Homo sapiens: one gene and its partner. The protein of the gene in region 2 interacts with the protein of the main gene of each other region in a biochemical or structural test. Each region holds a gene or a part of one and is shown on either strand. Other genes may lie near its edges. The genes, in order: PDZK1 and SLC22A12.

The links.
Region 1: the proteins of SLC22A12 (region 2) and PDZK1 form a complex in vitro, tested with the Homo sapiens proteins (2 studies listed by BioGRID and IntAct, with this or other methods).

What each region holds. Positions count from the first base shown.
Region 1 is NC_000001.11:145,682,257-145,692,427, reverse strand, and holds part of PDZK1 (Na(+)/H(+) exchange regulatory cofactor NHE-RF3), read left to right. Parts: intron 1-625; exon of another isoform or gene 626-2,319; coding exon of another isoform or gene 2,320-2,377; intron 2,378-4,404; coding exon of another isoform or gene 4,405-4,406; coding exon 4,407-4,616; intron 4,617-5,701; coding exon 5,702-5,951; intron 5,952-9,791; coding exon 9,792-9,928; intron 9,929-10,171. UniProt on the Homo sapiens protein: A scaffold protein that connects plasma membrane proteins and regulatory components, regulating their surface expression in epithelial cells apical domains.
Region 2 is NC_000011.10:64,585,155-64,595,468, reverse strand, and holds the start of SLC22A12 (solute carrier family 22 member 12), read right to left. Parts: upstream 4,250-10,314; 5' UTR 3,913-4,249; coding exon 3,511-3,912; intron 2,691-3,510; coding exon 2,587-2,690; intron 2,065-2,586; coding exon 1,910-2,064; coding exon of another isoform or gene 1,835-1,909; coding exon 1,666-1,834; intron 1-1,665. UniProt on the Homo sapiens protein: Electroneutral antiporter that translocates urate across the apical membrane of proximal tubular cells in exchange for monovalent organic or inorganic anions. Involved in renal reabsorption of urate and helps maintaining blood levels of uric acid.

The DNA of each region.
Region 1 (10,171 bases), on a different chromosome or scaffold from region 2:
AGAATTCCTTTTCAAAATAACACCTGGAAGCTCATAGGAGTTACACAAAGAGCACTCAGGAACAGCTCCCAGCTCAGACTTCCAGCTTTCTGTGCAGAGGAGTTGGTGAGGGTGGTGCTGAGGATCTCATATATCAATCCTGTTGATGGCCGTCTGGGGCCTGAGAGTCCTTGGCCTGCCTTGGGCTGGGAAGAAGTCCCCTAGGTCCCACCAGCTATTTCTTTCCTATGGAAAATAGACCAGTGGCTTTAGTTCTTTCTACTTTGCCAGATCCAGAGGTCATACCACCCTCCTTTTCATTACCAAGCCTTCCTAACTTCTAAAGGGTATTTAATGTTTCTTCTTGACCACGGCCACATTATTCTCTTTCCTGGCAGCAATAATCTAATCATTTTGGAAAAAAGCAAAATTTAATGGTATAATTAGCTTTTTCATCAATAAAATTGGTGAAAAAAAAAATCTCATTGGCTCTCACCCCCGAGCGGTTCCTGTCTGCCAGCCAACACTTTGTTCTCTTTCCCACAGATAAACAACTTTGTTGTCAACTATTGATTTTTCCCCCCCGAGCTCAGGAATGGTTATAGCTTTCTTTCATCTCCAGTTTTTTTTTCTTTTTTTGAAACAGGGTCTCATTCTGTTGCCCAGGCTGGAGTGCAGTGGTGCGATCTCGGCTCACAGCAACCTCTCTGCCTCCAGGTTCAAGCCATCCTCCCAACTAAGCCTCCCGAGTAGCTGGGACTAAAGATGTGTACCACCATGTATTTTGGCTGTTTGAACTGGGGAACAAAGCCTGCTGGATTTAATGGACTCCAACTTCAAATGATTGCTGCTAATGATATTCTAGAAATCCATAGGCCTTCATTTCTTCTGTGTCTATCCACCAGAGGGGTCTGATCTCTAGATTTTTTCAGGAGGCAGAAGATGAGGTGGGGTTAAAGAAGTAGGAAAGAGTATCCTTAAATACAAAGATCCTTCCTAATTAGGCCCTGTGTTCCAGAGTCCCAGGCATCCTTGTCATGGAGCAATGACAGAGTCTTGCGAAAGAGACATACCCCAGCTCTGAATTAGGGGACAGAGTAACACCAGGATGTGGACTAGACAGAACAAGGCCTGGAGGTGGACCAGAGCCCAGCTCCCTTGGCTCCTAGATGAATCATCTTTCTGCAAGATGGCAAAGGAAACAAATAGTTTTAGGTTCCCATGTAAGACCAGGCTTTTGAGGTTTAGGTCTGCTTTCCCCATTGGTGCAGCTGGGGGCGTTAAATATTTAATCAGTTTGGCCTGGGTACATGCAGATCGATGGCCATAGCATTAATCCATTAATGGCTGTGTGGTGGGGAGTACACAGTGGCAGAAGGCAGTTGGGGGCTTGCAGCAGTAGCTGTTTCCCCACCAGTATGGTAGCATTTCACTATTGGTATAAAGTGGCTCTAATTTTCTGGCTTCAACCAGACAAAAAAGAAACTGACCTTGAATGCTTGAGCCTTCAAAGCCATAGATGCAGATCTGAGCGATTACCATCTGGCTGTTTGAAAACTTCAAACAAAAAAGTCAACTTGAGATTCTGCCAAGAAACAGTGATTTGTGTTTCTTTGTATGTCAGGCTCACAGGTCTCCAGTGAGACATAGGAAAACCTTTGCCTCTTCCCCTCTCTCCAAACACAGGGCTGGTTCTCCTAGTGAGGAGGTTTCACTTTCTATCCTTGGCCTACAAACAAAGAGATTAAGAGTTTGTGGTTGACACTGCAGGGCGTGAGATTGTTGAGTCTTGGGTGTGAGTGCCTTAGAAATGAGCATTCATATGCTGATCACAAACAGCCTCATCTCTTGATGAAAACATAGTATCTGTTGGCCTTATTCTGATTATAAGGACATATTTTAAATTTTGTAGGATTTGAATGAGGTTCTCCAATAATTACTCCCAACTTTAAGAGGGCTTTGCATGTTTTGTTTGACATTGTTTTATTTTCTTCACAGCAAATATCATTATCTGAAATGATCCTATTCATTTATGTAATTACTGTCTGATCCTCCCAGTAAAGTACATTGAGACCTCGTCTTTCTTTTCTGATTTTTTTTCTTTTGGGGTCTTTTGGCCCTATGAAATGGAAAGGTGTAGGGATCTACAGGTGAGCTTGGACATAGATGTGAACTCAAGCTGAAACTGAACTGATGCTCGCAGGTTGGGATCAGCAGAAAGAGGAGTGAAAGGTGAGGGAGCTGGAATGGGCCACAAACAGGTGCCTGGATGTGACTCAACTCTGGTGATGCCATATTTTCTCCTTTCATCCCAGAGTGGTGTTTTCCTGGCAGCTGGTCATGGCTTTTGATAAGGCAGAGCTGCCTAGCTCTCCCAAGGTGCTGGTGTTGACCACTGGTGAGTGGCTTTGCTGTTTTCTTGCCTCAATGCTCGATGGGGAGTCTATTTGTTTGCTTCTTTCTTCGCTACTTAGTCACTCGTGCCACTGGTGGCGTGGGGCTTCAGACTTTGCGGAGACTGCAGGAGAGGCCTGGTATTGGGCAGCTGGGGGCTCTCTGTCTGATTTGTACTGTACGTCTCTGTGGGCATGAAGGTCAGGGATGGCTATCTTCAATCACCATGCCATGGCTTCTAGGGTGCCTGGAGCACTTTGTGGCCTATTCTTCACCCTCCCCCATATCCTGTGTGGTCATCCGTTCTTGTCCCTCCAGGAGGGAAGGGATAGGTGGTTTATTCTGATTTGTAGGTAGGGAACTGTGATGAGAGGAACTTGAGGGCTTGCCTTGCAGGTGGTGTGAAGAGCAGACTCCAGTGCTCTGTTGTGAGCCTTCTGCCTTCTGTATCAGCCTCTTGCTGTTCTGGCCCCTGTTCTTATTCTCCTATAAAAGAAAAAGCTTTCAGCCAGCAGGTGTCGGGGCACTGGCAGAAGTCTTACCCTTAATAATAACTGTGTGCCGGAGCCCTAGCTGTCGGTTTTACACTTGTCCTGTCTTCCTCCTATGGCTCAGGACCTTGCCCCTGCAATGGGGCAACAGGAGGGGCAGGATGAATGGAAATAGAAGCTGCTTCAGGCCAGGCATGGGGGCTCATTCTGTAATTCCAGCACTTTGGGAGCCTGAAGCATGAAGATCACTTGAGCCCAGGAGTTTGAGACCAGCCTGGGCAACAAAGCAAGACACTGTCTCTAAAAAAATTAGTTAGCAGGGCATAGTGATATGTGCCTGTAGCTCCAGCTATTCAGGAGGCTGAGGTGGGAGGATCGCCTAAGCCCAGGAATTCGAGGCTGCAGTGAGCTGCGATTGCGCCACTGCACTGCAGCCTGGGTGACAAAGCGTCTGGGAGGGAGAGCCCCAACCTAGCCACTGGAATCCCTTTTCTATCGAGCATCTCTTTTCTGCTGTGGCTAGAGACTTCAGGGGCCAGAACAGCCTTTTCTAGTGCATCTCCAACATATTGGACCAGCTCTAAGGCCTGGTGTCCTTTTTTTTTGAGGCAGAGTCTCACTCTATTGCCCAGGCTGGAGTGCAGCAGTGTGATCTCGGCTCACTGCAATCTCCACCTCCCAGGTTAAAGCAATTATCCTGCCTCAGCCTCCCGAATAGCTGGGACAACAGGTGGCTGCCACCACGCCTGGCTAATTTTTGTAATTTTAGTAGAGCTGGGGTTTCACCATATTGGCCAGGCTGGTCTCAAACTCCTGACCTTGTGATCTGCCCGCCTCGGCCTCCCAAAGTGCTGGGAATACAGGGGTGAGCCACTGTGCCTGCCTTTTTTAATGGTTTAAGCTCTTCCTTGTCCTGTCCTACCTCACCAAGCTTCTACTAATCCTTCAGTTCTTGGAAGTGTCATTCCTTCAGGAAATGTTCTTTGTTCTTCCCATCCCGCTCCCTATTCCCAAGACCCTTTGTTATTTTCCCCCTTATCACTGCATTCTTCCCCAGCATGACACTCACCACGTGTGGTTATAGGAATGTAATAATGTTCCCCAATAGAAGAGGCAAGGTATGGGTCCATCTTGTCTACAGATTTAACCTCGATTCCTTGAACTTGAAAAGCTCTTCAAATGTTTGAATGAGAGTGGGCTTGTCATAAATTTTTTGGGTCATGTATTTGGACTTAATTTCTTTAGGTCAGAGGACAAAGAGGAGTTTGGTTGGAGATACTGAAATGGAAGCATCTGTGTCCAGTACTCAGTAAAAAATACGTGGGTCTGAAACTCTAGTAAAAAGGTTGTCCTTGGGGAAACAGATTTGGAAATCATTAGCAAGTTCTGGAAGGTGTCCTCCTGTGCCCCCAGCATTACTACCCAAGCAGTCTAGATTTGGTGATTGGAAGAACAGAATTATAGGAGATGGAGGATGGGGTTCTCACTCCAATTAGATTCTCTTTTCCATGGTTTTATTAATTTATTTTTTTCATCACAGAAATGACCTCCACCTTCAACCCCCGAGAATGTAAACTGTCCAAGCAAGAAGGGCAAAACTATGGCTTCTTCCTGCGAATTGAGAAGGACACCGAGGGCCACCTGGTCCGGGTGGTTGAGAAGTGTAGCCCAGCAGAGAAGGCTGGCCTTCAAGATGGAGACAGAGTTCTTAGGATCAATGGTGTCTTTGTGGACAAAGAAGAACATATGCAGGTGAATGAGACATTTGGGGCTTTTCTTCCAGGATCTCTTCAGCCCCCACATCTTCTCTGCTGATTATAATTTTGGGGGTTGGTAGAGTTTGGTTCTTTCCTGGCTGCCACTGGCAAGGCAGGACACCTTTATTGCTGTACCTTGTGTTGGCCAATCAAGTCCCCTATGAGGAACCAAGAACTGTACACATTACTCTTGGATTTGAATAGCGTTAGGTCTAACATGAATTGCATGTTCACTATATACCAAAAATGGTGCTAGGTATTTTTTTTTTTTTTTTTTTTTTTGAGATGGAGTTTCGCTCTTTCACCCAGGCTAGAGTGCAGTGGTGCGATCTCGGTTCACTGCAAGCTCTACCTCCCGGGTTCATGCCATTCTCCTGCCTCAGCCTCCCAAGTAGCTGGGACTATAGGCACCCGCCACCACACCCAGCTTTTTTTTTTTTTTTGTATTTTTAGTAGAGATGGGGTTTCACCGTGTTAGCCAGGATGGTCTCGATCTCCTGACCTCGTGATCCGCCCGCTTCGGCCTCCCAAAGTGCAGTGATTACAGGCATGAGCCACCACGCTCGGCCAGCAATTTTATATTCATTATCTTGTTAAGTCCTCATCATGACCTCATAAGGTATATGTTACAATTTCACAGATTAGGAAGCTAAGTACAGATATCTTAGCTTGCTAACATGTTCCTGCTGAGGATATATGGGAGAGTCTGGCCTTACCTTATTCTGCCTGACTCCAAAAGCATGGTCTTTTCCTTACACTGTGCTGTCCCCATGCACACGGGAGGAATGGTTACAATCTAGGGCAGCGCTCCTCTCTAGAAAGGACCAGTCTTGTAAGAACCCTCTGGGCTGGGGTTGAACCACACTCTATATTCCAGCAGTGCCAGAAGCTCAGCCTAATCTGCACCTGGATCTCGGGAGGGCAGGGATGGAGGTGGCTGAGGAACTACCTGCTTCTACTTGGGTGTCAAGGGTCAACTAGCAGCATCTCCAGGGCCAGATATTGAGCCAGATGGTCAGCATTTCCCTCTGGCAGTTGGCAGAGGGTTATTAAAGTTACCTTTTTCTTCTTCCCTCCTAGGTTGTGGATCTGGTCAGAAAGAGTGGGAATTCAGTGACTTTACTAGTTCTGGATGGGGATTCCTATGAGAAAGCAGTGAAAACACGGGTGGACTTGAAAGAGTTGGGTCAAAGTCAGAAGGAGCAAGGTTTGAGTGATAATATACTTTCCCCTGTGATGAATGGAGGTGTGCAAACTTGGACCCAGCCCCGGCTCTGCTATCTCGTGAAGGAAGGAGGCAGCTATGGCTTCTCTCTGAAAACTGTCCAAGGTGAGAATTTTTTGGGGAGCAGGGGGAGGCAGGGGCAGGGCACAGACAACAGGCTTCCAGAACAAAGATGCTACTGGTTAATGACTTTTCTTCTTTGACTGACTTTTCAGTTGCTATAGATAGCTTGCAACAGCTTGCCTCCCTCCGTCTCTCACTCCCTCCCTGCCCTTTCCCTTGCCTTGCACAGTTGTGCAATGGGGGAGGGACACTGGACAGCAGTGGGGGTGGGGGGCACTGGGTACTCCTGTCCCTGAGTGTTTGTCAGGCTGGCACTTGAGGACTCTTTGAGGTCAGGGGGCCAGAGGGTTGATGCTTCTAGCCCTCTTAGGGTGAAAATGAAGGGCAGAATAAGGAATAAAAGGCAAGAAAAATGAGATTCTTCATAATAGCTATTTTTGAGTAAGATTGGTATCTTTTTTTTATCTGAGTGCCCAGATAGTCATTCATTTATTCAACAAATTCTTGAGCACCTGCTGATGTGCCAGGCACTGTTACCTTTGCTGAGAATACCGCAAAAATTTCCACCCTCCTGTAACATTTTGATAGTACCCTCAGCTGCGGCTCAGCCCCACCTGTTCTGAGGCGCATCTTTGAGCTCTGGCTAAGAGGTACATAGTGATTTGAGAAACCCTGACCATCAGGAAGCACCAGAAGTTCTATTTCTAGAATTTCAGAGGTGCAGACTAACCTGTGTTCAGTTGACCGTGGCTCTGGGGTATTGGTTGGAACCAGAGGAGCTGTGTTAGCTGGTCAATTCCTTCTTGAACACTGCCTCTGCCTATGTTCTTTCTGGGGCTGGAGAAGCACTGGTGGTAGGTCATGATTTGGCAAGTGATACAGCAGCAGACCAGTGGTAAATTTAAAATAGTTTCTAAGGCTTATTTAACCTGTACCAAGAGATGTAAACTCACGATAAGGGGTATTTCTCAGGTCTGTCAGTTATTAAACACAGTGGTGTGTATAGTCAAAGGAAGCTTGGCACGTCTTAGAAGCCTATTATCAGTAAAGTGGTAAAAAAAAGAAAATCATAATTCAGATTCTACTCATCTGGCTCATGTGCTAATGCACATGGTGAATGGTTTAGGTTAGCTTTATGAGGAAAATGGTCTCTTCATGACAAATATATAACAAGGTAGCAGGAGAAATGCTGAGTGTTTAAGGAAGCAGAGTTTAAGTTATTGTCATTCCTTACAAGTGATTTATGTAGTCATTAGCAAGCGATCCCTTGCCTAGGTTGACATACAAGAGTCCCCCCTTATCCTGTTTGGCTTTCCATAGTTTCAGTTACCTTACCTGCAGGCAACTGTGGTCTGAAAATATTAAATGGAAAATTCCATACATAATTTTTGCATTGTGAACCATTATGAGTAGTGTAATGAAATCTTGTGCTGTCCTGCCCCGTCTTGGACATGAATCCTCTGTTTGTCTAGCATCTCCACGTGGCATGTGCTTACCTGCCTGTTAGTCTTACTACTTACTACTCAGTTACCAGGTCAACTGTCACGGTATTAAAGTACTGTGTTCAAATAATCCTTATTTTGCTTAATAATGGCCCAGCACAGAAAGAAAAATATCACATATTCTCATATGTGGGAGCTAAAAAAGGTGAATCTCATGGAGGTAGAGAGTAGAATGAGAGATACCAGCAGCTGGGAAGGGTATGTGTGTGGGGTAGGGTGGGGATGAAGAGAGCTAGGTTAATGGGTACAAACCCACAGAGAGAAGGAATAAGTTCTAATGTTTGATAGCACAGTGGGGTGACTGTAGTTAACAACAATGTATTGTACATTTCAAAATAGCTGTAAGAAGATTTGAAATATTCTCAACACAAAGAAATGATAAATGTTCAAGGATGGATGTCCTAAATATTACACCCTGATTTGTTCATTATATGCTCTTGGTATCAAAATATGACACACACCCTATAAATATGTACAAATGTTATGTATCAATAAAAAATAATAGCTCAGGCCGGGCGCAGTGGCTCACGCCTGTAATCCCAGCACTTTGGGAGGCCGAGGCGGGCAGATCATGAGGTCAGGAGATCGAGACCATCCTGGCTAACACGGTGAAACCCTGTCTCTACTAAAAATACAAAAAATTAGCCGGGTGTGGTGGTGGGCGCCTGTAGTCCCAGCTACTCAGGAGGCTGAGGCAGGAGAATGGTGTGAACCCGGGAGGCGGAGGTTGCAGTGAGCTCAGATTGCGCCACTGCACTCCAGGCTGGGCGATAAAGCAAGACTCCGTCTCAAAAAAAAAAAAAAAAAAAGCCAAAAATGCAAGGATAGTGATGCTGGCAGTTCAGATATGACAAAGAGAAGCTGTAAAGTGGCCGGGCACAGTGGCTCATATCTGTAATCCTAGCGCTTTGAGAGTGCGAGGCGAGTGGATTACCTGAGGTCAGGAGTTCGAGACAAGCCTGGCCAACATGGCGAAACCCCATCTCTACTAAAAATACAAAAATTAGCCAGGCGCGGTGGCAGGCGCCTGTAGTCCCAGCTACTCGAGAGGCTGAGGCAGGAGAATCGCTTGAACCGGGGAGGCAGAGGTTGCTGTGAGCCAAGATTGCGGCCCTGCGTTCCAGCCTAGGTGACAGAGCGAGACTCCATCTGTTAAAAAAAAAAAAAAAAAGGCTGTAAAGTGCTTCTATTAAGTGAAAAGTTCTCGATTTAATAAGGAAAGAAAAAATACTGTATGCTGAGGTTGCTAAGATTAGCTCAGTTATTGTTAATCTCTTACTGTGCCTAATTTATAAGTTAAACTCTATTGTAGGTATGTAAGCACAGGAAAAAACATATAGGGTTCGGTATACTATCTTAAAGTTTCAGGCCTCCACTGGGGGTCTTGGAATGTATCCCCCATGGTTAAGGGGGAACTGCTCTATTAATATCTTTGAAGAATTGACAGCATTTCTATAAGTAGCACCTAAATCTCACCACCTAAATGCATTCGGGTTCTTCCCTCCCTCCTGTGCCTGTCCTTGTTAGCCTACATTGGTGAGATGACTCCACAGCATACGATGGCTAATATAATAGTACAAACTGAAGAGGAGAGAATGGTAAAGATGCTTTCTGATTCTACAAATGCAAAGAAAGGGCGTATGACACAATAATGCAGTGTGGGCATGTTTTAGCGCTTTCTGGTTCAAGGGGCCAAGGCCACCCAAGATTCCATCTTTGCATTTAGCTGACCTCAGAAATTCTATTCAAATCAACAAATACCCACTGAGTAAAGGCTGTGTCAAGTTCAGTGCCAGGACCTATAACTGTGATTTTAGATCAGAAGCCAAAGGCCGAGTTAGCTCTAAAATCGGAAGTTTGTTTCACATTATTGGGAGAAAAGTCTTTACCATTGGATTTCGAGTTTTTCTTTGCAATGGAGTGTTCTGTGAAAGGGTGGTGTATGCAAAGCAGTCCCTCAAAGGCCAAAGGAGCTGAGAAACCAAAGGACAAGGCAGGCAAATCCAGTTTGTTGGTACATTGGAATTTATCAGGGGAACTTACGAACAGAAGCATGGTCTTGGACAGCCACAAAACATGTAGATCTCTGTGTTACTCCCCAGACCCAAGGCTGATATACCATAGGGAAAGGGTATATGTGCTCCAGCAAGACAATCGAAGGCAGCCCTCCGCAATAGCCAAGAATGCTATAGTGCATCATAGCCTATAATTTGCGTGATAACATTAAGGTTGACATGTTCTTAGACTAGGGACAGTAAATGAAGTAGAAATCGGGAGGCAATCACAGGACTGGGGCTAATCAGAAGTCAACATCACAGATTACCATCCAAGAGGGAGTCACTTGTGTCTCCACATGGAGTTTACCCCTACTCTCTTCCAGGTAAAAAGGGGGTGTACATGACTGATATTACACCTCAAGGTGTGGCTATGAGAGCTGGAGTTCTGGCTGATGATCACTTGATTGAAGTGAATGGAGAGAATGTAGAGGATGCCAGCCATGAGGAAGTGGTTGAAAAGGTATGCCCCAAAGGGTACTTTTCTTACCCTATCTTCCACTCTATTCTCATTGGAGGTGACAGGAAGACAGGGGTGGTAGGGGACAGCATGAGTTTATGATGGAAAAAATATCCAGTTGAGTTGCCCCTTCATATTAAGGGTGAACAGACTCACACTAGTGGTATAAGCAGTGTTAATATAGGGTTTTGGAATAAAGCCTTCCCTAGTTTCACATGAGGTCTACAAAATTATTAACTTTACCTT
Region 2 (10,314 bases):
AACATCCATCCATTCCATCCATCCATCATCCATCCATCCATCTATTCCAAACATCCATCCATCCATCCGTCCGTCCATCCATCCATCCATCCATCCATCCATCCATCCATCCATCCATTCAACCATCCATTCAACCATCCATCCATCCATCCATCCATCCATCCATCCATCCATCCAACCATCCATTCAACCATCCATCCATCCATCCATCCATTCCATCCATCCATCCATCCATCCATCCATCCATCCATCCATCTATTCCAAACATCCATCCATCCGTCCATCCATCCATCCATCCATCCATCCAACCATCCATTCAACCATCCATTCAACCATCCATCCATCCATCCATCCATCCATCCATCCATCCATCCTTTCCATCTATCCATCTATCCATCCATCCATCCATCCATCCATCCACCCATCCATCCATCCATCTATTCCAACCATCCATCCATCCATCCATCCATCCATCCATCCACCCATCCATCCATCCATCTATTCCAACCATCCATCCATCCATCCATCCAACCATCCATTCAACAATCCATCCATCCATTCCATCCATCCATCCATTCCATCCATCCATCCATTCCAACCATCCATCCATCCATTCCATCTGTCCATCCATCCGTCCGTCCATCCACCCATCCATCCATCCATTCATCCATCCATCCATTTATTCCAACTATCCATTCATCCATCCATCCATCCATCCATCCAACCGTCCGTCCGTCTGTCCGTCCATCCATCCATCCATCCATCCATCCATCCATCCATCCATCCGTCCATCCATCTATTCCAACCATCCATCCATCTATCCATCCATTCAACCATCCATTCAATTCATCTATACAATCCAATCCATCTATCCACCAACTCACCCATCCACTCATCCAATCCACACATCTGTCAACCCATTTATTTATCTGTCTCTATCTATCTACCTACCTACCTACCTACCTACCTACCTACCTACCTATCTATCTATTTCTACTTACCTAACAATTCATCCATTCAACAAATATTTATTTAGCACCTACTATGTGCCAGGTGCTCGGCAAGGGCCACGCCTGATTTGTTTCAGGGCAGTGCTGACATTTCCTAACCTCCCACACATGCCGGCCCTCTGTGGGGACTGTGGACTCCCCTCTGATGAGTGGATCCTGGTCCCTGTCTTCCAGCAGACAGACACAAGCATTGATTCTGTCAGCCCATGAAGCAGACTGCGGCTGTGCGCTGTGTGTGCGGGCATGTGTTGTATCTTTCCACTCGCTCCCCTAGCCTAGCTCAGTGCTGCCATGCCTGGCACACACAGAGGAGGGGCTCAGAAGATGGGCCTGGCAGCATAGATGCCAAGGCAGGCAGGGACAGGAGAGGAGAATAGGCCAAGAGATGAGGAGGAGGGAGGAAAAGAGAAGAATAAGTAGGAGAAGGAGCACTTGAGAGGAGCAGGGGAGGCGCCCTGGGGACCCAAGCCCTGGTTGAAGTGGGTGTCTTGGGTTTGTGGGTGGTACACTCTGCCACGCTCCTGGCTTTCCTCCAGCCCATGCACCCCTGGCCTCTAGCACTCCCCAGCCCCCAGGGAAAGGAGAGTCTCCCATTCCCCCGGGTGGAGAGTGGGCAGGATCTCCTCTGAGGAGGGGAGTGGGGCACAGCACCCACCAGGAGTACAAAAAGCAGAGGAAGAAGGGGACCGAGACCACCAGCTGCAGCAGTGTCCAGTCCCGCACACCGTAGGCCACTGCAGCTGTCAGGCCATGGCCGAAGCTGAAGCCCAGAGAGTTCAAGGTCATCACCAAGGGTCGGGCCCGTGCCGCCGTCCACTCCATCACTGCAAGGAGACCGAGTGGTTCAGCCCTGGAGCCTGCATGGAGCCCCCCTGCATGGCGCCAGGTCAGAGACCTACGGAGAGTGCCCGTGTTCATCATGACGCCTGCCACGGCAAAGGCCAACAGGAAGCGGAACAGGCAGTACACGGGGAAGGCAGGGGCGAAGGCAGCTGCCGTACCCATCACAGCCATCTGAAGGTAGCTCCAGGTTAGCACCAGCCTGCGCCCAAACCTGCGGCACAAACCAGGAAGAGGCAGGGTCTGTGGCTTGCCACGGCACAGGCCACGGGGCTCTGGAACACCTAGAGCCCACCCTATGCTTGCCCGCTGAGCTGAGGCGGACACTGAAGCGGCACCTGGGTGAAACCTACATTCTCCACCTACGGAACCCTCCGGAGCACAAGGAGAGTCCCGAGGCCAGAGCCAAAGGGAATGGGCTCCAGTCACCAGGAGCACTCAGGTTGCTGCTGAAGGAAGGCGCATGGCCAAGCCAGTTTTAGCAGTGAATGTTTGCTGGGGAGCAGAAATCCTCTACAACCCCCAGAGTAAAGTTGGTGAACTCGAGGTTCAGAGAAGGTTCCAGACCTCCCTACCTGGCACGGCTGCAGGGTGGCTGGTCCGAGACCCACACCCAGCAAGTAGGGCGCTTTCTAGACTTGGTTTTGTGAGGCTGGTTTGGGGCCAGTCGGCCAGGGTCCTAGGAGAGCAGGGGTTGTGAGGGGAACTGGGACCTGCCTGGACTGGGGGTACTCACCTGTCTGAGGCAGGGCCGCACGCAGCAGCTCCCACCAGAATCCCAGCCAGGTAGATGGACTGGGCCATGGGCTTCAGAGCATGAGAGTCACACACGAGGTTCCACTGATGGGAGAGGAGGAGGCTGAGCTCAGGAGGTTGGGAGAGCCCCAGCAGAGAGGCAGAGGAACCGCATGGGAGGGCCCCCAGGGAGCTGGGTGCGGTGGGTGGTCTGGTGACCTCTAGGGTTTTAGAGCAAGACCCTGTGGAACAGTGAGGGCACCCACAGGCATAGTTTGGCCTTTTGAGGAGTATATCCTGCCACCCTCTGCCTGAACTCTTCCATGGCTCCCTATTGCCCAATGGGTCTCTAGCCACATCTGCCCCTCTCTCCTGTCTCTCCACTTGGAAGCAGCCACCCAAGCTGACACCCTCACCCCTCTCCCAGAGGTTGCTTCCCTCCTGTTCTTTATAAAGAGGTTCTTCCCACTTGTTGGGATGAGCTGCCCCTCTCTGCTTGCCTGGCTTTGCCTGGCGCCCCATCTGGGAGGCAGCCTGGGGTAATCCCTTACTCTGTGTGCTTTGGTCTCGGGGAATCCAGTGAATTGTCACTGAGTCCCCCTGCTGCTGAGTTGCCTGGAGTCACGGCTGACAGGTCAGCAGGGCCAGGACAGGGTGAGGCCGGTGAGTGTCCAGGTGCCAGCATTTAGAGGTGCCCGCCCAGGTGCCCCCCGCACCTCCAAGAGCCTGGGCTGGCCCCATTTGTAGACTGATCCCTGCCGCCCACTTCCCTGTGTGTGGCTGACGAGGGGCTGAGAGGCTCGAGAGTGAGTGGGGCCTGGGGAGGTGGGTCCCTCCCAGGACTGGACCTTTGAGTCTGACCCACCGTGATCCATGACTGACCTCCAAGGTGGTGGGACTCGAGTGGCTCTGGGGGAGGCCCTACCTTGGCCACGATTGTGGAGGTGAAGATGCTGCGGTCATAGACCCAGCCATCCACACACGGCTCCGTGTCGGCCTCGCTCCAGCTGGTGGCCGTGGCATTGGGGTCCAAGAGCTGCCACTGTGGCTGGCGGAAGCGGCGGCACTGGTGGGGCCTCTGGTTGGGGCCCGGCGGGATGGAAATAGCCAGGAGGGCCTCAGGACTCAAGCTCCCTAGGATGCTGGCCTGAGCCGTGCTGTTGTCCAGGAGGGGTGCCCAGCAGCGGTGGCTGGGCACGGCGGCCGAGAAGTTCTCCAGCATGCTCTGGGTACACAGCCACATGATGGAGACCATCAGAGCCATCGTCTGGAGAACCTGGAACCTGCCCAGGCCACCCACGAGGTCCAGGAGTTCAGAAAATGCCATGGAACCTACTCAAGGGGCCCAGAAGAGGGGCCCACTTCACAAAGGCTGGCCCAGGGCAAAGAGGCCAGGGCAACGGGCCTGTTTCCCCCACGGTGGTGCCCACAGTGGCTTCTCCAGCCCAGCGGCTAGGCTTCACAGACTCGGGGCCGGAGGCTCAGGCTCTCTGGTCATCTGCCTGCTGGTGTCACTTGGGGTGGCTCCAACTGGGCCCTGAGGCCGCGTGAGGTGATTCCGAGACCTCCAGCATCTCCCCAGAGAGGCAGCTGCTCCAGACCTCCCGGGAAAGCTGAATTTGGAAAGTAGGGAATGTGGAGACTGAAGACTTTAATTTTAGACTGGAATTAAAGTGTGACCGGTGACACTTATGGAATCGAGTTTAGCAATCATTTCCTTGGTCAAAGTTTAACCCGCGTTGAGGCAGGCACAGACGCGAGGGAGGTGCAGCCTCCTCTGCTTGGGGGCCAGGGCCGGCCTGCTCTGTGCCAGGTCTTGGGGAGGCCTAAGTTTTTCTCCTGGCGGCTGTGGGATGCCAGGGCTGCCTGCTCCCTTCGGTGCCCCTGTGTGCCCACCTCCCAGAGTGGCTGAGCCAAGAGAAGGTGGGCCAGGGGATCCCCCTAATTTGGGGCTGGGGCAGCTGTGCAAGTCTCTGTGTGGGCTTGGGTCACTGGCAGCTGCCCAGCCCCTGCGCCTCCCAGGCTGTGTGGCCTGGCCCCACCCGTGGCTCCTGCCTCCACTCACCTGCTGTGGTTGGCGTCCTGTGCCCGCTTTGCTGTTACCCTGTCCTGAGTCCTCGGTGGAGCTTCCCAGCATCAACAGACACCCCACAGACTCCCCAGGTTCGGTGTGCCCAATGCCACCCTGAGATCTCTGTCCCCTCCCCAAATCTATGCCTCCTGCAGAGCCCCACCTCAGCTATGGCCTCTCATGTCACAGTGTCTGGCCTGGAACCCAGCGTCTTGGTTCACGCCTCCTGCTCCCTGCCTCCCAAATCCACCAGGGGCCAAGCCTGGCTAGTTTTGCCTCCTAAGGATTTCTCTCTCCCACCTCCCCCACTCCACAGCTGTCCCTGCCCTTGTCTTTCTGCCTCAACTCCTGCCCCTGGACCCACCACGCACTGCGAGCCCTTGGGTCAAATCCTGCTTAAAAGCCAAGGGGCTCCCAGTCAACAACAGCTAGTGGTGACTTACTAGGGCAGGTGAGTGGACAGCAGTGTGTGCTGATGCAGGGTGTGGGGTTCAGGAAAGGCTGGACCGAGGCCAAGAGAACCCCCTTGGTCTCGATAGCTAATTCTGTAGGCGAAAGGGCCAGAGAACACAAAGCAGTTAAAAAGTGTGTGTGCATGGCCGGGCGTGGTGGCTCATGCCTGTAATCCCAGCACTTTGGGAGGCCGAGGTGGGGGGATCACTTGAGGTCAAGAGTTCAAGACCAGCTTGGCCAACATGGCAAAAACCCATCTCTACTAAAAATACAAAAGTTAGCTGAGCATGGTCGTGGTGCACAGCTGTAATTCCAGCTACTTGGGAGGCTGAGGCAGGAGAATCTCTTGAACCCAGGAGGCAGAGGTTGCAGCAAGCTGAGATTGCACCACTGCCCTCCAGCCTGGTTGACAGAGAAAGACTCTTATCTCAAAAAAAAAAAAAAAAAGAAAAGAAAAAAAAGAAGTGTATGTATATGTGGGTGTGTGCACATGTCTGTGTATGTGTGCACATGTGTTTGCACAAGTGCATGTGTGTACATGTGTGCATGCGTATATGTGCAGTGCAGCAGTGATGGCAACCCAGGTGTTTGCTCTTATGAGCTTTGGGCATAAAACTCTCCATTTGAGGCATAAATGCCCCTCCCATCTGCTTCTTTTTGCTTCACCGACTCTTCCCGCTGCCCCTCCACATGGCTTACCAAGCCAACTTCTTTGCCTCCCTGGGCTCTGCACCTTGAGTCATCCACTGCTTCCACCACATGCCCTGTACATGCTTTCTCAGTTCCCACCCTTGCTTATGTTGGACCTCCAGCCTGGAATGCTGTCTCCAGGCTCACCCTTAGGCCACATACTGTGTGGAATGGGCACAGTCCAAATACTCCTCCTCCAGCGGGCTCTCTTCACTTATTCCTGCCTACAACTAGGGCTCAGAGTTGTCAGTGGAATCTCATCTTTACACTGTCCTGCATTCTTCTCAAACTCCTGACCTCAGGTGATCTGCCTGCCTTGGCCTCCCAAAGTGGTGTGAGTTGCGGCACCCAGCCATGACCTGCATTCTTCTATTATGGTCCAGTTGGTCTTATTTCCAGTGAGCTCCTGGTAGTCTGGAACCCTTCTTTAGAGGCTCTTTGGAACTGATTTGGACAACAAATAAAGGTTCCATGGAGACTTGCTGAAGTGCATGGATGATTTTTTTAAAAATTTCATTTATTTTCTAATTATGAAATAATTTACACACTTCCTCAAAAATTCAGAACATATTGAAATGAAAATAAAGATCCCTCATATACTCATCAACCAGTGAGTTACACTACTGTTTACAGTTTGGTGTAAATATGTGCAGACTTTGTTTTAGTAACTGATATGTTTAGCTTCATCAGCTTGAGCTGCCAAATAAGCTTTACATTTCCTTTTGTAAAATCCAAAAGAAATACCTCTGCCTTTTAATTAGCGATTTTAACCTGTTCACATTTATTGTAATTATTGACATGTTTGGACTTACTGTATGTTTTCTTGTTTACCACATTTTCCCTTTAAATCTTGGTTTCCTTGTTCCTAATTTCTACTGAATCCATTAAGTTTTCTTGTTATATTCTTCTACTGTCTTGGTCTGTCAGTTGTACGTTTTATTTCTGTTACCCTTATATTTGAACACACAAACCAGGGGTTATTTGATACCATCTTCTCTCTTCAAACCTACCACCTTCTCTTCTATCCTCTCTCTCAATAGATGACCTTTTTTCTTATTTCACTAAAACAATAGAAGCCATCAGAAGCCAACAGTCTAATTCTCTCACCAGCTCACCTGCCTTGGTGCCCCCACATTCTGCCTTCCTTCCACCCAGTTTGGTTTCTCTCTCATCCATGCCAACCCCTCACTGTGTGCCTAGAGCCCACCCCCCTTTGCCTGCTCACATCTCTCTTTGGCATTTGTCTTTCCCTCGCTACTGGATAATTTCCACCAATGTACAAATATGCCATTTTTTTCTGTAGCCTTCCAAAAACTCCCCCTCCATTTGAGCCCCTCTTTCTTCTTAAGCGACTGCCCCACCTTTGCTTGTATTTACAACAAAATTCTATGAAAGTATTATTGACACTCATTTCCAGTTTCTGTCTTCCCATTTTTTTGTTTGTTTTTGGATTCATTCCCATCAAGGTTTTGCCCCTATCACTCTGCTGTCACCAATGACCTCCATGCTGCTAGATTCAATGACATTTTCAGTCCTCATCTTACTTGAGCCATCTGTCTCTGATCTCCATCTGAGAATACTTTCTTCCCTGGGCCTCCAGGACTCACTAGTTCTCAATCTTCTTGGTTGGGTTTTCCTCTTCTCCACACACTGTTAACATTGGAGGCCACTGAGCTCACTCCTTGGTCTTCTCTATATTCTCTATCATCTGGTCCATTCACATCTTTAGCCTGTACCTCTTCTTGGAATGCTAGATTTTGATCCAACTGCCTAATCTTAGGTGCTTAATAAACATCTCACACTTAGTGTGGCCAAAGCTGAGCTCTCCCAAAAAAATGCTTCTCATGCAGCTTTCTCCACTTTTTTTTTTTTAAGTTGAGTCAGAGTCTTGCTCTGTTGCCCAGGCTGGAGTGCAGTGGCGCCATCTTGGCCCATTGCAGTCTCCACTGCCCAGGTTCAAGCAATTCTCATGCCTCAGCCTCCTAAGTAGCTGGGTCTATAGGCATGTGCCACCATGCCCAGCTAATTTTTGTATTTTTAATATCGATGGGGTTTCACCATGTTGGCCAGGCTGGTCTCGAACTCCTGGCCTCAACTGATCTGCCCACCTCGGCCTCCCAAAGTACTGGGATTATAGGCATGAGCCACTGCACCCAGCCCCAAATCACCAGCATTTTAATTTCAGAATGTGTAATTTCCATTTCAGAATCCGTGTTTGGTTCTTCCTATAACTGCTTCTTCTTGTTTCCTAGTTTCCACTTCTTGTTTCATAGGTGGAATAATTTCCTTGATCTCTTAGTGGATATTACGAGTGTTTCTCTTGGGCCAGGCGTGGTGGCTCACGGCCGGAATCCCAGCACTTTGGGAGGCCGAGGCGAGTGGATCACTTGAGGTCAGGAGTTTGAGACCAGCCTGGCCAACATGGGGAAACCCTGCCTCTAGTAAAAATACAAAAATTAGCCAGAGGTGGTGGCACACACCTGTAATCCCAGCTACCAGGGTTGCTGAGGCAGGAGAATTGCTTGAATCCATGAGGCGGAGGTTGCAGTGGAGCCAAGATCACGCCACTGCACTCCAGCCTGGGTGACAGAGCAAGATTCTGTCTCAAAAAAAAAAAAAAAAAAAAAAGAAGAGTGTCTTTCTTCTTAATATCAATATTCATTTGTTGAGCTGAGTGTTGATAATGCACCAGCCACTGCTCTAGGCACAGGGATGCAGCGGTGAACAAACAAGATAATTCCCTGTTCTCATTGATATGTAGAAAGACATGCCAATGAGAGAGGAGAAACACATCAAGAAATAAATGAATATAGTGACAAGTAGTAATCATGCTGTGGAGAGAACAAGATAGCATAAGGGGCAGAGAGTAAGGATCATGTTGCCACTTTGGGTGGGGCAGTCAGGGAAGACTTCTCTGTGGAGGTGGCATTGAAAGAGACCCAAGTAGATGAGGGGACAAGACACACAGTTGACTGGGGAAAGAATATTGCAGGCAGAGGGAAGAGTATTATGCAAAGACCCTGGGGTGGGCATGTGATTTTATGCTCAAGAAGTAGGAAGGAGGCCAGTATGGTTGGGGAGAAGTGAGTGGGAAAAGTAGAGCAGTTTTGGGGCCAAAACATACACTTCCTTATAGGGTTTTGAGGAGAGAAGTGGCATGATCTGACTAATGTTTTTACAAATCTCCCTGGCTGCTGTGTGGAGAACAGACTGAAAATGGGACAAATATAGAAGAAGGGGTTCCCCCAGGAGGCTGTTGGGGTGGATCATGTGAGCAATGAGGGTCAGGGCTAGGGGATTAGGGCAGGTGGAGAGAAATGCTTGGGTTTGGGGCATATTGCTTTTCTTTGACTAAATACAGGGCCGAGGGTGAAGAAAAAGGATAAACTGATGATCAGGTGGGTGGTGGGTGGATGGTGGGCCATTTACAGAGAAGCAGAACACTCGGGGAGAAGCAAGTTTGATGGGAAAATAAATCTTTTTTTGTGTGATGATATTGACATGTCTATTAGCCATCCAGGTGGTGGCATCATGGAGCGACTTGGGAATAATTAGGGGATAAAAGGCATTTTAAGTCACAGGACTGGATAAGCTCACGTAGGGTGCAAGCTTTCATAGCAAAGAGATGACGTTTGTGATGGAGCCTTTGGTCTCTGATGTTGAGAGGTCAGTAAGAGGATGACCCAGCAAAAGAGCTGTGAAGGCAAAACCAGTGAGGCCTGGAAACCAGGACAGCAGGATGCCCCGGAAGCCAGAGTGAAAAGTATCTGACAGAGTCAATCAGCAATGTCACATCCTTGGCCGGGCGCGGTGGCTCACGCCTGTAATCCCAGCACTTTGGGAGGCTGAGGCAGGTGAATCACCTGAGGTCAGAAGTTCGAGACCAGCCTGGCCAACATGGTGAAACCCTGTCTCTACTAAAAATACAAAAAATTAGCCAGGCATGGTGGCACATGCCTGTAATCCCAGCTACTCAGGAGGCTGAGGCAGGAGAATTTCTTGGACCTGGGAGGCAGACGTTGTGGTGAGCCGAGATCACGTCATTGCACTCCAGCCTGGGCAACAAGAGTGAAACTCCATCTCAAAAACAAGGAAACAAAAAAGTCTCATCCTGCTGAGAGGTGGGGTGGGATAAGGTCTAGAATTAGCCCCTGGATTTGGCAGCATGGACTTCTCTGAGGGCCCTGGCTTGAGGGTTTACCGTGGAGGGGTGAGGTGAAGTGCACAGAGGCACAGGACTGTGAGAGTGCTGGAGGCAGGGAAGTGAAGTCGGTGAAGACAGGCAGCTCACCTACGGAGTTTCACTCTAAGGAGAAGCAGGAAAATGGGGATGTGGTTCGCATTAATTAGAGTAACGCTGGCTGCTGTGGCAAGCCAACCTCGAAATGTATAGCAGCTCAAACACAGTAGAAGTTTATTTATTGATTGTGTAAAGTCCCAAATGGCTGTTGCTGACTGTGGGCAGCTCTCCTCCAAGAGGTGTCTGGGAACGCAGGCTCTCCCCATCTCGCAGCT